2 separate regions of the Homo sapiens genome follow, and region 2 is reported to be linked to region 1. The links are microRNA targets in miRTarBase. Many come from high-throughput screens and were not tested one by one. Region 1 holds a microRNA gene; the other region holds the end of a gene's coding sequence.
Evidence for each region. The annotated mature microRNA hsa-miR-4264 reads ACUCAGUCAUGGUCAUU and lies in region 1 at 3,061-3,077, opposite strand. An mRNA with a match to its seed (bases 2 to 7 or 8) in the 3' UTR can be bound and repressed. Matches are read on the target gene's strand: a 7mer-m8 pairs with bases 2 to 8, a 7mer-A1 pairs with bases 2 to 7 and ends in A, and an 8mer does both.

Region 2: the mRNA of AP5B1 is a reported target of hsa-miR-4264. Seed matches in the 3' UTR shown: 7mer-m8 at 4,230-4,236 and 7mer-A1 at 4,743-4,749.

The regions. Positions count from the first base shown.
Region 1 is chr2:79,646,273-79,653,537 of GRCh38, forward strand. It overlaps MIR4264 (microRNA 4264), which reads right to left and starts at 3,087; the gene lies at 3,022-3,087. CTNNA2 (catenin alpha 2) reads left to right here. Exons shown (of 19, transcript NM_001282597.3): 2 at 5,280-5,386. The coding sequence starts at 5,285.
Region 2 is chr11:65,772,226-65,779,225 of GRCh38, reverse strand. It overlaps AP5B1 (adaptor related protein complex 5 subunit beta 1), which reads left to right. Exons shown (of 2, transcript NM_138368.5): 2 at 1-5,328. The coding sequence ends at 1,370. Among named protein-coding and RNA genes, the nearest start is that of AP5B1, 5.2 kb to the left of the region's middle. RefSeq lists an enhancer at 977-1,881.

The DNA of each region.
Region 1 (7,265 bases):
CTTATCAGGACGCTGTCCAAGGAAACAAGCCCCTTAACCCTTGGCTGCTTCACAGAGGAGCCCATTTTACTCTGACTTTTCTTTTCTGTCAGGTTTTGTATTTTCTATCATGAGTGACAAATAGCTGATAGCATCCTGGCCTGTGCCTCTTTCTTACCACCACAGAAAGAATATGAAATTATCTGAAGTATTACCAGGTGGGCTGTATTATTACCTTACATGGAAACACAATTTAAAACTTTTCTTTCTGTCTTTTTTTTTTTTTTTTTTTTTTGAGAAAGGATCTCATTCTGTTGCTCAGGCTGGAGTGCAGTGGCACAATCATGACTCACTGAAGCCTCGACATCCCTGGGCTCAAGTGATCCTCCCACCTCAGCCTCCTCAGTAGCTGGGACTACAATATTGTGCCACCATGCTCACCTAATTTTTGTATTTTTTGTAGATATTGGTCTCACTATGTTGTCCAGGCTGGTCTCAAACTTCTGGGCTCAAGCAGTCCACTCACTGTGGCCTCCCAAAGTGCTGAGATTACAGGCATGAGCCACTGTGCCCAGCTAAAACTTTTCACGAAGAAACTCTCCTCAGAAATTCAAATTCTAGGAGCTTTCTCATAGGCTTGTAACATTGTGCTGTATGGAAGAAGACAAACTTGTTGTCTTTTGTTATTTACAATCTTGTTTTTCACTCTTTGACTGTATCCAGTCTGTATTCTAAGTCTCTCTACCAAAGGTAAGTAAAATATAAATTTTTACTTTGAATTCAAATCAGTGAGAAGAAATTTATTTGCTTTATGTAAATTTTCTTTTGTGGGCAAACAGACGGTATTAATTGCACAGATGGGATTGAGACTATATATCATTTTATCCTCAGAAAGATGAAGGGCTCGTGAGACTGCACACTTGATCTGTTCTCTTGTTTTCTCGTTTGTGTCAATTTGGTTGTTCCACATAGAGGAGTGTAAATCTGGATCTCTATTTTAATGAGTGTTTACCTGTTACTTCAGAGATAAAGAATTGCCAAAAAAGGAAATTTAAATTTGGGAAAATAATGACAACATAACAATAATAACAAATATTTCCAGGAATGTTAGCATGCTTTCTATCCATTAAGTTATTTAATCCTCACAATAAGCCTATAAAATCCTTATTATCCTGATTTTTCATTTGAGGAAACTGGGACTCAGAAAGGGCAGGCAATTGAACAGTATCACAGAGCTAATAAATTGCAAGGCTTCAAGTTTTTTTTTTCAGTATACGTTCCTTATTTGTTTATTTTCAGTCTTTCCCTCCAGAGTGTGATCTCTGCCGAGACAGCAGATATTTTTGCTGGTTTTGTCCACTGATGTAGCCCTGCTACCTAGAACAATGCCTGGCCCAGAGTATATGATAAATACTTGAATGGCAGGGCTTCAATTTAAACAAAAGTCTATTTGATACCATTGTGTTAGCTATTGCTGATTAATAGTTAATGGCAAAATCTCAGTGGCATGCAACATACAACAGCAGGCATTTACTTCTTGATCATGTGTTGATGGTTTGGTTGGGAGTTGGCTGACTAGGCTTAACTTAGCTGTGCTTGGCTCCAGCTCCAGCTCGGATTCAGGTGTGCTCCATGTGTCCTTCTTTCGTTTTGGACCAGTAGGTTATATGTGACTCTTATGGCAGAAGGCAGTAGCACAGAGGAGAAGCCCAATTAAGTAAGCACATTCCAAATGTCTACTCACGTCATATTTCTTAACATTCCTCTAGCCAAAGCTCAATAGCAATGGAATAGGAAAATATTCTCTTCTCATGGAGGTGAGGATGGGAAGGAAATGACTATTTACTGAAAAATCCTCCAATCTACCTCAAATGCCTGTGCATTTTCTCTGTCCTTCCTAATTCATAAATATTGAATGTACAGGCGGGATGACATTCTCAGTTAGGAGTCACCTTATTGTGTGTGCTTGTCAGAGGGGCCACATACCAAATCATCAATTCATATTTTCTGACTACCATTGCCTCCCTTTTTGCTCTAGAGGATGTTTGACTCATTTTGCCTTCTCTGCCCTAATTTGTTCATACTAGAACTCTGGAGGCAAAGATCATTAATGAGTGATTCTAGAAGACTATGGTTATGATTACTATCCTGGAACAGAATCTTTTTTTTCTGTTTTCATGCAATTCCAATTGGCCAAGGGATTTTTTAAGGAAAATGTTCCTACTACAAGGTCTAATACAGACAGCAGAAAGCAATCCAATGTTTTACAAGTAGCAGGACATGCAGGATGGGAATACTTTTTCTAGAAACAGCAAACTGTAAAGATGATACCAGCTGAGGTATCACAGGCAGGGGAGCTTCTTACCTTCTTCTACCTTGTGCTCAATGGCTGATATGAAGCTAAAATGCCCCTTAGAGGCAACTCAAAGGGAATCTTACATATCAACATCATGGGTTTAGAGGTGGGGATTTTGCGGTCCCCACCACCACTCCTTTTGTTCATTGCTAATGTGGTTAGTAAACTAAATGGTGAAAAGATTATGGGGTAGAGACAGAATTCCTGGTTTTAGTCTCAACTGTATCAGAAACAGCATGGCTGGAAAACAGCATTTCACATTTCTATGACTTATTTTTCCACTTCAACAAATTAGTACCGTGTAACCTTTTCTTTGCTACTGAATTTTACCTTTGTCACAAGAAATGACTAAAAAGATTGATCCTCAAAGGAATAAATTAATTTGAGTGATTTGTCTGGGAACTATTGTTCTTTTATTTTTAGAGTTAGAAGGGCTCTGTGACCTTCAGGACTGAAGGCCCTAACTAACACTTGCTTCTTGGCTCATAGTTGGCTTGAGATCTTTGTTTAAGGAGTATCTTTCACTTCTGCTTGATGCATGCTAGATTCATGTCTCTGTTGTGACTTCCCCAGCATTTTTGTGTCATGTTTTAAAAGTTACATAATGGAACAGCTATAATTTTATGTGCCTTCCTTGATCTATCAGCGTATGTCTACAAGCATGCCCATGTTATAATGGAAATTCTCTATGCAGTCTTACCCAGTACCTGTCACTATCATGTTACAATGACCATGACTGAGTATCCAGCTTTCCTACAGAACTTCCGTGTTCATCATCATTATTATGCCACTTGTGATTCCATTAGAGTTTGAAAAAGGTTCTCAGGGAACTTCTCCAGAAACTTGCAACAGCTGTATCATAAGTACTGGACTAAGATCACTTAGGTAGGTCTGGCTTCAGTAGGGATGAAGGTATCCCAGTGTCTGCAGGAAGCATCTGGCATCTTTATCCTTCTATGGCATGAGAAGGTGTGTTGCCCAGCGGCAGAATTCTGTATATGACAGAGCTGCTCTATGGCAGTTGGTAGTGTGAATGGAAAATGTGTAAAGTGTTTTTAGGTTTTTGGAGGACAGGCAGCATGTCGGTGCCAACTATTGTTGTGATGAAGAAACCCAAATCTAAATCGGTCTGTATGGTTGGATTGCTATGCTTAGTTTATTTAAAACATGGCATTTGGAGAGAGTTAAAATACCAGCACACTGTGTCTTTGCCTCTACTTTTTTTCTGAAGCAAATTGGTTGGGTCTATTTGCAAAAGCTTTAGCTGTAAGAGAGCCAGTAAAGAGGCACATTTCTACTAGTGCCTATTGTGATAGGCCTTCTTTGTCGTGTTAATTCTAGTAGAAATAATCATCTACATTGATTTATAAGGTTGGAATTGAATGGGGACATTGATTCAAAATAAAAGAACAGCCATGGACATTTTGATTTATGTTGGTATTAAGGCAAATCATTCAGATTCGGTTTGTACAATCTAAGGTTGCTTGTCCAGTGGTTAGATGTCAGAATGTATTTAGCAATTTCTTGATGAAAGAAACAAACCCCTGATAGAATGTATACTTTTTCGGGGGGGGGGGGGGAGGGGCTAGAACTGTAATTTTTTGCTTGTTGTGTGGAGACTGCTACCTGCATGTCAGTGGTTCTTAGGTAAGAGAGGATTGCTTTAGAGTGAAATAAATAACCTTATCAGTCACTGATTTTATGGGACAAGAATGTAAATGTAGTGAGTAATCAGAGAGCATGTAAATAGTAGCAGATAATTTTTCAGAACATTGGCACTTAGTTTGAAGATGTCTTTCATATTTAAGAGACTGAAACTCTTGTCCCAAGGAGTATGATATTCTCAGGGGTCAGTTATGATGTGAAGAAAAAAGTAGCCTTTTGTTATAAAGGGGTTCCTACATCTAGTAATCATTGGTGGATTTACTTTGCTTCCTGCTATTCTTTGTTGTTCTCTCCAGACTGACATTGATGCCCCTTCCTCACCTCTCCCATAGTCCTCTCTGTGTTTCTTTTTTTTTTTTTAAATGTATTTATTTTTATTATACTTCAAGTTTTAGGGTACATGTGCACATTGTGCAGGTTAGTTACATACATATACATGTGCCACGCTGGTGTGCTGCACCCACTAACTCGTCATCTAGCATTAGGTGTATCTCCCAATGCTATCCCTCCCCCCTCCCCCCACCCCACAACAGTCCCCAGAGTGTGATGTTCCCCTTCCTGTGTCCATATGATCTCATTGTTCAATTCCCACCTATGAGTGAGAATATGCGGTGTGTGGTTTTTTGTTCTTGCAATAGTTTACTGAGAATGATGATTTCCAATTTCATCCATGTCCCTACACAGGACATGAACTCATCATTTTTTATGGCTGCATAGTATTCCATGTTAAAAAGTCAGGAAACAACAGGTGCTGGAGAGGATGTGGAGAAATAGGAACACTTTTACACTGTTGGTGGGACTGTAAACTAGTTCAACCATTGTGGAAGTCAGTGTGGCGATTCCTCAGGGATCTAGAACTCTCTGTGTTTCTTAATCACAACATGTGTCACACTGAGACCTAATTGTTCCCATATTTGGCTATCTCTAACTTTAAACATTAAGCTACTTGAAAGCAAGACTGAAACCTTTCGCAGCATATAGCAGATAGGTATGCATACTCATTGTTGAGTAAATGAAATATTTCAGTGGCTATTGGGTCCCAAAAGCAGGCCTAAGGTACACCAGTATGCTGAGGAGGCCTCAGTTTTTAATCTGATTCCAACATTGCCACCTCACAGTGTACTGGTCTGGTTTTTCCATCTCTAATTTGACCAGGTTGGACCAGAGAGGCTATCTTCCAGTATGTTCTAAGTTTCAGTGATTTACCCATTTTGAATCACCAAAGTTACAATTTATTTCAAAGATGATTATTTCTAACTGATTACATGTGTTCCCATAGGGAGCATGACTTCGGCAACTTCACCTATCATTCTGAAATGGGACCCCAAAAGTTTGGAAATCCGGACGCTAACAGTGGAAAGGCTGTTGGAGCCACTTGTTACACAGGTAAGGGATGCTTTGAAACCACTTTGTTATATATGTGTTTCTATTGTGATTATATCCTGACTCTTGGAAAAACTTAGACATCCTTAAAAGAGAATAAATCATGCCATGATTCCGATTACTGAATATATATTACTGCCTGAACTATGGGCAATCTCATTGCCCTATAACATTTGAAGTGGCTTTTAAAAACTATTTGTATGATTTTTGAAATTAAGTTGATGAGATAATTGAAGAGGGGTCCTTGGTGAAGGGGGCCCTCATTTACGGTAATGGGTTCAAAGTCTAAATAAACTATTCCTCCTGCACTTTCAGATGCTAATGCACCATTAGGAAAAACTGTGTTGACTATACAACAGCAATGTATATTTATTGAATTACTTTTCTTTCAGTTTACAAAGCAGAATTCATCCTGTTGGAGTGATGAGATGTTCCATTTTTGTGTTGTCACAGTTGTCACATTTCCACAAGATAACGGTCAACAGAAAAATATCATCAGGATTTTTAAGTGTTATAAGTTATTTTTTAGTGTCTTGTTAAGCATGCTCTTTGCTATTTTAACTCTGAGATTCCTGGGATGTGATTTTTTTTTTTTTTTTACCAAATTATAATAGAGGCATTTGTATTGTCCTGTGGCTGCTATAACAAATTCCTATCTACTTAGTGGCTTGAAGCAGCACAAATTTATTATTCTAGAGGTCAAATATCCTAGTCAAGGTATTGGTTGGCTTGCATTCCTTCTGGAAGCTCTAGAAGAAAATCCATTTTCTTGCTTTTCCCATCTTCTAGAAACCACATCACTTCTTTGACCCCTTTCTCTATATTCAAATCCAGCAATGTAGCATCTTCAAATTTCTCTTGCACTCTGACCTTTGCTTTTGTCCTTGCATCCCATCTCTGAAATTGTCTTTCCTACTTCCTTCCAATAAGGACCCTTGTGATTATGTTCGGTCCACCCAAATACTCCAGAAAAATCCTCCCATCTCAAGATCCTTAACCCAATCACATCCAAAAAGGCTTCTATTGCCATTTAAGGTAACATATTTACAGTTTCCAGGGATTTGGATGGAGTTGCTTTGAGGACCATTATTCAGTCTGCCATAGTTTGCCCTCTGGCTCCCCAAAGATTCAGATCCTTCCTTTATGCAAAACACATTACACCACATTCTCAGGTCTCCAAAAGTCTCAACCAATCATAGCATCAACTCAAGTTCAAAATATCATCTAAATTTCATCAGCTTAAAAGTCCCAAATCTCATTGTCCAAATTATTTAAATTAGATATGGCTGAGGATCTCTTTATAATCTGTCCTTGAGCAGAGTTCCTCTCCATCTGTGTAGCTGTGAAACTACAAAACAAATTATATGTTCCCAAAATGCAATGGAGGGACAGGCATAGGATAACAGTTACAGACATTCCTACATAAAAAGGGATAAAGTGGAAGGAAAAAGGAGTTGCCAGTCTCAAGAAATGTAGAAATCTACATGGGAAAATTCCATTAGATTTCAAGGCCTGTGAATAATCCTCTGTGGCTTGAGTCTGCTCTCTGGGCCTAGTTCAGAATTATTTCTTCATTTTCATGAAGGGTTGCACATATTTTCAACCAGGTATTCTTGTCATCCATCTCCTACCTGTAGAATTTTGAGTGTCCATTCAGCCTTCGTGCATTTCATCCCTTTTCTGCCTGTATCAGTCCAAGCTGATGGTGTTACCACCGTTGTAGGATTCTCAAGAACATTGTGATTTTACTATGCACATCTCCAGGATTCACTCCATTAGAAAAACAGGCTCCTCTACAGATCTTTCTTGGATAATTTCATCTCCATTTTTGGCCTCTGTTGAAGTGGCTGAGGGGATCCATGAATTACATGCCTAATCACTT
Region 2 (7,000 bases), not on the chromosome of region 1:
GTGCCGAGGAGGAAGAAGAGGAGAAAGGCCAGCTTCCAAGCCCACGGCACTACCTGGAAGAGCTGCTGGCTGGCTTGCGGCAGCGGGCAGCCCTGGATGGGGGCCCCCGGGCCTTGGCCACTCTCTGCTTCCAGGCCTCGTATCTGGTGGCCTGCTGCCTGGCTGGGCAACCTACGGTGCTGACCCCCTTGATCCACGGACTGGCCCAGCTGTACCAAGCCCGGCCCATGCTGGCTCCCCACTTTGTGGACCTCTTGGATCAGGTGGACTCTGAGCTGAGGGAGCCCCTGAAGGTGGTGTTGCGGCAGGTGGTGGTGTCCAGGCCGGGCAGGGATGAAGCTCTTTGCTGGCACCTGCAAATGCTGGCAAAGGTGGCAGATGGAGATGCCCAGAGTGCTACCCTCAACTTTCTACAGGCCGCGGCTGCCCACTGCACGAACTGGGACCTACAGCAGGGCCTGCTGCGGGTCTGCCGGGCGCTGCTGCGGGCAGGGGTGAGGGGCGGCCTGGTCGACTTGCTGCAGGTGCTGGCCAGGCAGCTGGAGGACCCTGATGGGCGTGACCACGCCCGCCTCTACTACATCCTGCTGGCACACCTGGCAGCACCCAAGTTGGGGGTGGCCCTGGGCCCCTCGCTTGCCGCACCTGCACTGGCCTCTTCACTGGTGGCCGAGAACCAGGGCTTTGTGGCAGCACTGATGGTGCAGGAGGCACCGGCCCTGGTACGGCTGAGCCTGGGGTCCCATCGGGTCAAGGGCCCACTCCCAGTGTTGAAGCTCCAGCCGGAGGCGCTGGAGCCCATCTACTCTCTGGAGCTGCGCTTCCGTGTGGAAGGACAGCTGTATGCACCCCTGGAGGCTGTCCATGTGCCCTGCCTGTGTCCTGGCCGCCCTGCCCGCCCTCTGCTCCTGCCTCTGCAGCCCCGATGCCCGGCCCCCGCACGGCTGGATGTCCATGCCCTTTACACCACATCCACTGGTCTCACGTGCCATGCCCACTTGCCACCCCTGTTCGTGAACTTTGCCGACCTCTTTCTGCCTTTCCCGCAGCCTCCAGAGGGGGCCGGGCTGGGCTTCTTTGAGGAGCTCTGGGATTCCTGCCTGCCAGAGGGTGCTGAGAGTCGTGTGTGGTGTCCACTTGGGCCACAGGGCCTGGAGGGCTTGGTGTCCCGCCACCTGGAGCCTTTTGTGGTGGTGGCCCAGCCTCCTACCAGCTACTGTGTAGCAATCCACCTGCCCCCGGACTCAAAGCTGCTGCTGCGGCTGGAGGCGGCCCTGGCAGATGGAGTGCCTGTGGCCCTGCGGACCGATGACTGGGCCGTGCTGCCCCTGGCGGGGGACTACCTCCGTGGGCTGGCGGCTGCTGTCTGAGCCCCGGGAGACCAGGTGGGGGCAGGACTGTGGCCCTTGTGGGGGCCAAGGCACACTCCTGTAGCTCTGTCGCCAAAACCCTGCATTCCGCAGTGCCCTCGCTGGCTTGTTTTCTTTTGGGCCCCGGTTGGGAGCAGGCTCCTGGGGGTGAGGGTCTGTCTGAGTCTGTTTTTGCTGCTCTAGCAAGATCCCTGAGACGGGGTAAGTTATAATAAACAGAAATGTATTGGCTCAGAGCTCTGGAGGCTGGGAAGTCCATAGTGGAGGGCCCAGAGCCCAGTGAGGACCCTTCTGCATCTTCCCATGACAGAGGACAGAGTGACAGGAGTGAGGGGAGAGAGCGAACCCACTCCCAAGATAACGGCCTGAGTCCACGCAGGAGGGCAGAGCCCTCGTGGCCTGACCACCTCTTAGGGTCTAATCTTATACTGTTACAGTGGCAATCGCATTTCAACGTGAGCGTGGGAGGGGACAAACATTCAAACCATAGCAGGGTCATAGGCCCCAAGAAGGCTTCCAGACAGAACCCGGCACTGTAGAGCTACAGAGTTCCTTCTCACCCAGACACACTAGTGCTCTCCAGAATCTCTGCCCAGGAGGCAGGGGAAAAATCTCCTTTCTGCTTCCCAGAGAGGGTCTGGCCTTGCCCAAGGCCACTCAGTGATTTAGGAAGAAGGCTGAAGCTAGAGTGTGGACCTGACCTGTTGGACAGTACTTTTCTTTCTTTTTTTTTCGGGGAGGGGTTAAAGACAGGATCTCACTCTGGCGCTCTGGAGTGCAGTGGTGTGATTAGGGATCATTGCAGACTCTGCCTCTCAGGCTCAGGTGATCCTCCCATCTCAGCCTGCCTCCGAGTAGCTGGGACTACAGGTGTGAGTCACCACTGTATTTTTTGCAGACAGGATCTCCCTGTTTCCTAGGCTGGTCTCGAACTCCTGGGCTTAAATGACTCTTCTGCCTCAGCCTCACCAAAGTGTTGGGATTACTGGTGTGAGCCCCCACACCTGGCCGAGCCAGCGCTTCTCAACTCCCAAGGTTTGCAAGCTCCCTGCCCCAGGGAGCTCACGCCAGGCAGGCCAGTGGGCCTAAGCCAGAAACAGAAAGACAGCAGTGGCCAGGTGGAGAGCTTCCCAAGCTGTGCCGATTAGAGCCAGCTCTAGGAAGGGCCTGCTAATAAGGTCTAGGGTCTGAGACCAAGTTTTTTCTAATCTCAGCCCCTAAGAAACCTAATTTGTGCTTAGGAATCTTCCCAGGTAAGAAGAACTAGTTCCTCTAGTTGTTGTTTTTTTTTCCCAAACATGCAAACACTGAGGATTGAGCTGTGTGGGGTCAGCTGTGCTGCCAGGCACATGTACGTTGCCTCATTTCATCCTTGCAACAGCTCTGCAGGGCCCCGCAGATGAGGAAATCCGTAGGCAGGAGCGGTTGAGTGATTTTCCTAAGGTCACCCAGCTGTTTGGTAATAGTGTTTTGTCATCTGGTAGCAGGTTTCCATTACCATGCCATCAGAGCAGACCTCAGCCAGGGCCACAGAGGTCCCAACCGTCTCTGCCCTCTTCTGCTGCCCCTGCCTCATGGGCTCCCAGCCACAGGTTCCCCATGGGCCAGCTTTACGCCTCCTGATCCTTCCGATTGGGGCAGACTAGGAGAGGAAAGACGGGCCTGGGCTGGGTGCGGTGGCTCATGCCTGTAATCCCAGCACTTTGAGAGGCTGCGGCGGGTGGATCACCTGAGGCCAGGTGTTTGAGATCAGCCTGGCCAGCATGGCGAAACCCTGTGTCTAATAAAAATACAAAAATTAGCCGGGCGTGGTGGCGGGCGCCTGTAATCCCAGCTACTTGGGAGGCTGAGGCAGGAGAATTACTTGAACCTGGGAGGCAGAAGTTGCAGTGAGCCGAGATCACGCCACTGCACTCCAGCCTGGGCGACAGAGCAAGGCTCTGTCTCAAAAAAAGAAAAAAAAGAAAGGGCCTGGGACAGTGGTACTGTTAATAGGTGGAGTCAGGAGGCCTGTCTCAAACTTGAGATGTGGCAATAACTTGCTTTGTCACCTCGGCAAGTCATTTCCAAATCAGGAAGGGGTCAGTTTCAGGAAACAGAAACTTCTCCAGCTGTTTTTGGCAGAAGGGGATTTAAGGGAATCAGGGTACTTAAAGTACATGGGAAGGCTGGAGAAGTCGCCTCCAGGAAGCTCCCACTGGAGCTGGGATCAGAACGTACTGTCCTGCCTGCCATCCCCTGTAAGCACCCAGGAAGCTGGGCTTGGGCCCTGGGACATGGGGTGGGACTGCCACTCCTGCCTCCTGACACCCACAAAGCCAGAAGCGTGGTGCTGCTGCAGAAGGACTGAACATCTCCAAGGCTGGGCCCGCAGAGCAAACTTCCTTGGCCCTGTGTCCTCCATCCATATCCTTCAAAGGACACCTCATTAGTGGACTCCATTTCTCTCTTCCACGGAACTCCAGTGGCAAGGGAATCCAGAAACGTTTTCTTTTTGCCTGGAGATGCTAATCCTTAGCCTAAGAATAAGGAAACTGGTCCATGTAAGGACTGACCATCCTTTCACCCATCTGTCTGCCCACTTGTGCATCCATCCCATTTTATCCATCCATTCCTCCAGTTGTGGACACCAGATGACTTTCAGCTCCCCCTACCCCAACCAGAACTTTGCTGCAATGGCCATTCTTATATGCCCCTATGGACCCATGGGACAATTCTCTGGGATACATGCTAGGAGCAGAATTGCTGAATCATAGGGAATGCATGTGCTTAGCTTGGCTAAGCAATGTTGGAGTAAAAGCTTTTGGTTTTGCATCTTCTCAGCACTTCTAGGGAGGCACCAAAAGGGAGGATGGCACTGACTGAGCCCACCTGAGATAGCTCCTAGACCCCAGCCCTCTGTGTCCTCAGAATCACACACTGCTGCTCATCACTTCAGCTTCCCGAAGATCATGGCAATAGCAGCATGCCTGTAACTGTCCCAAGTACAACCAAAAATTCTTCCTAAAGAGAGGGAACCAAAGTCACACGGGTCACCTTGTCCACCTGTGTGGACGTTGCTCATGTTCACATACCCTTCCTTGCCTCCTTCAAGGCAGGTCTGGCCACAAGCCCAGCTCTGGCTAATGAAATGTGAAGGGAGTCAAGGGCCGGGGGCGGTGGCTCACACCTGTAATCCCAGCATTTTGGGAGGCCGAGGTGGGTTGATTACCTGAGGTGAAGAATTTGAGACCAGCCTGGCCAACATGGTGAAACCCGTCTCTACTAAAAATCCAAAAATTAGCCGGGTGTGGTGGCGTGCTCATAATCCCAGCTACTCAGGAGGCTGAGGCAGGAGAATCGCTTGAACCCGGGAGGTGGAGGTTGCAGTGAACTGAGATTGGGCCACTACACTCCAGCCTGGATGACAGAGCAGGACTCCGTCTCAAAAAAGAAAAAAGAAATGTGAAGGGGTCAGTTTTGGGGCAAAATATGTCATTGCCAGTGCTCAATTTTCCAGCCCTCTCTTCCTCTGCCATGACCGTTGGGGAAGTACATGTTGAGATGGAGGTGCTAAATAGTTGAGTCATAATCTCACCTGGATACGCTGTAACAAATGCCCTGGATTATCAAATCAGTTATGTAAACTAAAAATCCTAAAACCCCACCGACTGAACAGATGCCACCTCGTGGCCGAGGGAATCTCAGAAAAAACTTAAAACAATTCCTGGCCCTGATGGGTTGGGAGGTCAGATGCAACTTGTTATACCCCATCCCTTTATGGTTTAGACACAGCTGCCGAGCATGAATGAACAAAATAGGGATCATGAGATGGACAGAACAGACACTGTGGCAATAAGATACCAAATTGTAAACAGGACCTAAGGCCATGCCAAGCAAGGGTTAAGTCATGTAGAGCCCACCTTCATGCCCCGCCTCCCCTGCCCCCAACTTATGAATAAACTATGTTCTAACTGCACAAGGTTTTTTGTTTTTGGTTTTTTTTTCCCTGTAGCAGCTAAAAAGCTTAAAAACAAAACAAAACAAAAACCACTTTTTATTTTGTTTGTTTTGAGACGGAGTCTTACTCTGTCACCCAGGCTGGAGTGCAGTGGCGTGATCTTGGCTCACTTCAACCTCTGCCTCCTGGGTTCAAGTGATTCTCCTGCCTCAGCCTCCTGAGTAACTGGGATTACAGGTGTCCGCCACCACACCCGGCTAATTTTTGTATTTTTAGTAGAGATGGGGTTTCACCATATTGGCCAGGCTGGTCTTGAACTCCTGACCTCAGGTGATCTGCCCGCCTCAGCCTCCCAAAGTGTTGGGATTACAGGCGTGAGCCACCGCACCCGGTCCAAGCACTGGCTTTGAGATAAGCAATATTAAAAACATTTTCAGCTTCATCAGATGCTGACTAACTGACCTCCAACCACTGTTCCACCAGCCATAACTACAGCTTTGGTTGGACAAGTGACTGATTTCAGTAACTTTTTCCTGACAAGGTGACTACCCATCATGGACTGGTTCTGGCTGGCTTACAGAGCTCCTGCACTTGCATGTCTTTGTGTCCTGAAAAGACCTTTTGCCATATAGGGCCTAATTATAATACATTTAAATGTTAAGTCTCCACCCCAAAGTGACCATGGGTTGTATGTTGCATGCATGTTTGTTCAATATGCATGTGTCAGAACCACTTTCATGAATATTCATAGCTCCTCATGTAACCTGTTGAATGTGTATGTTTAGTCAATCCATTGAGCATGAAGCTCCTACCCTAACCCCTCCTTCTTTGAAGTGCCTGTCTCTGGTCTTGGCTGGAGACATGCTTCCCAGCAGGTCTCACTCCCTTTCTGAGGCTGGAGTGCAGTGGTGCGATCATAGCTCACTACAACCTCAAACTCCTGGGCAAAAGTGATCCTCCTGCCTCAGCCTCCGGGGTGGCTAAGACTACAGGTGCATGCCACCACACCTGGCTAATTTGTAAAATTTTTTGTAGAGATGGGTTCTTACTATGTTGTCCAGGCTGGTTAAGGCCTCCTGGGTTCAAGTGATCCTCCTGCCTTGGCCTCCCAAAGTGCTGGGATTATAGGTGTGAGCCACCAGGCCCAGCCTAACCCTTTATAAGAAATAAAGTCTCCTCTCAAAATTTATAAATTGTGTATCTTTTCTTTTTTTCGTTAACAATTATCAATAATACACTTTATATGAAACAAGGGAAAAGATGGGGAAAGATATCGGTTAATCTCTATTTTACATGCAAGGAAGAAAGTATGAATCTTTTGTGCAATGAGTTACGAGGCCCTAATTAGGGTTCCTAGGTTTAGCAAATAAAAATATTATATAGGATGTGCATTTAAGTTTGAATTTTGGAGAAGCAATGAATTTTTTAGTTGTTAATAGGACATACTTACACTAAAAAACCAGTAGTTGTTTCTCCAAGGTTCAGATATAAGTGGTGGGTTTTTTTTGTTGTTTTTGTTTTTTTCTTTTTTTTTTGAGACAGTCTTGCTCTGTTGCCCAGTCTGGAGTGCAGTGGTGTGATCTTGGCTTACTGCAACCTCTGCCTCCTGGGTTCAGCCTATTCTTGTGCCTCAACCTCCTGAGTAGCTGAGATAACAGGCATGTGCCACCACACCTGGCTAATTCTTGTA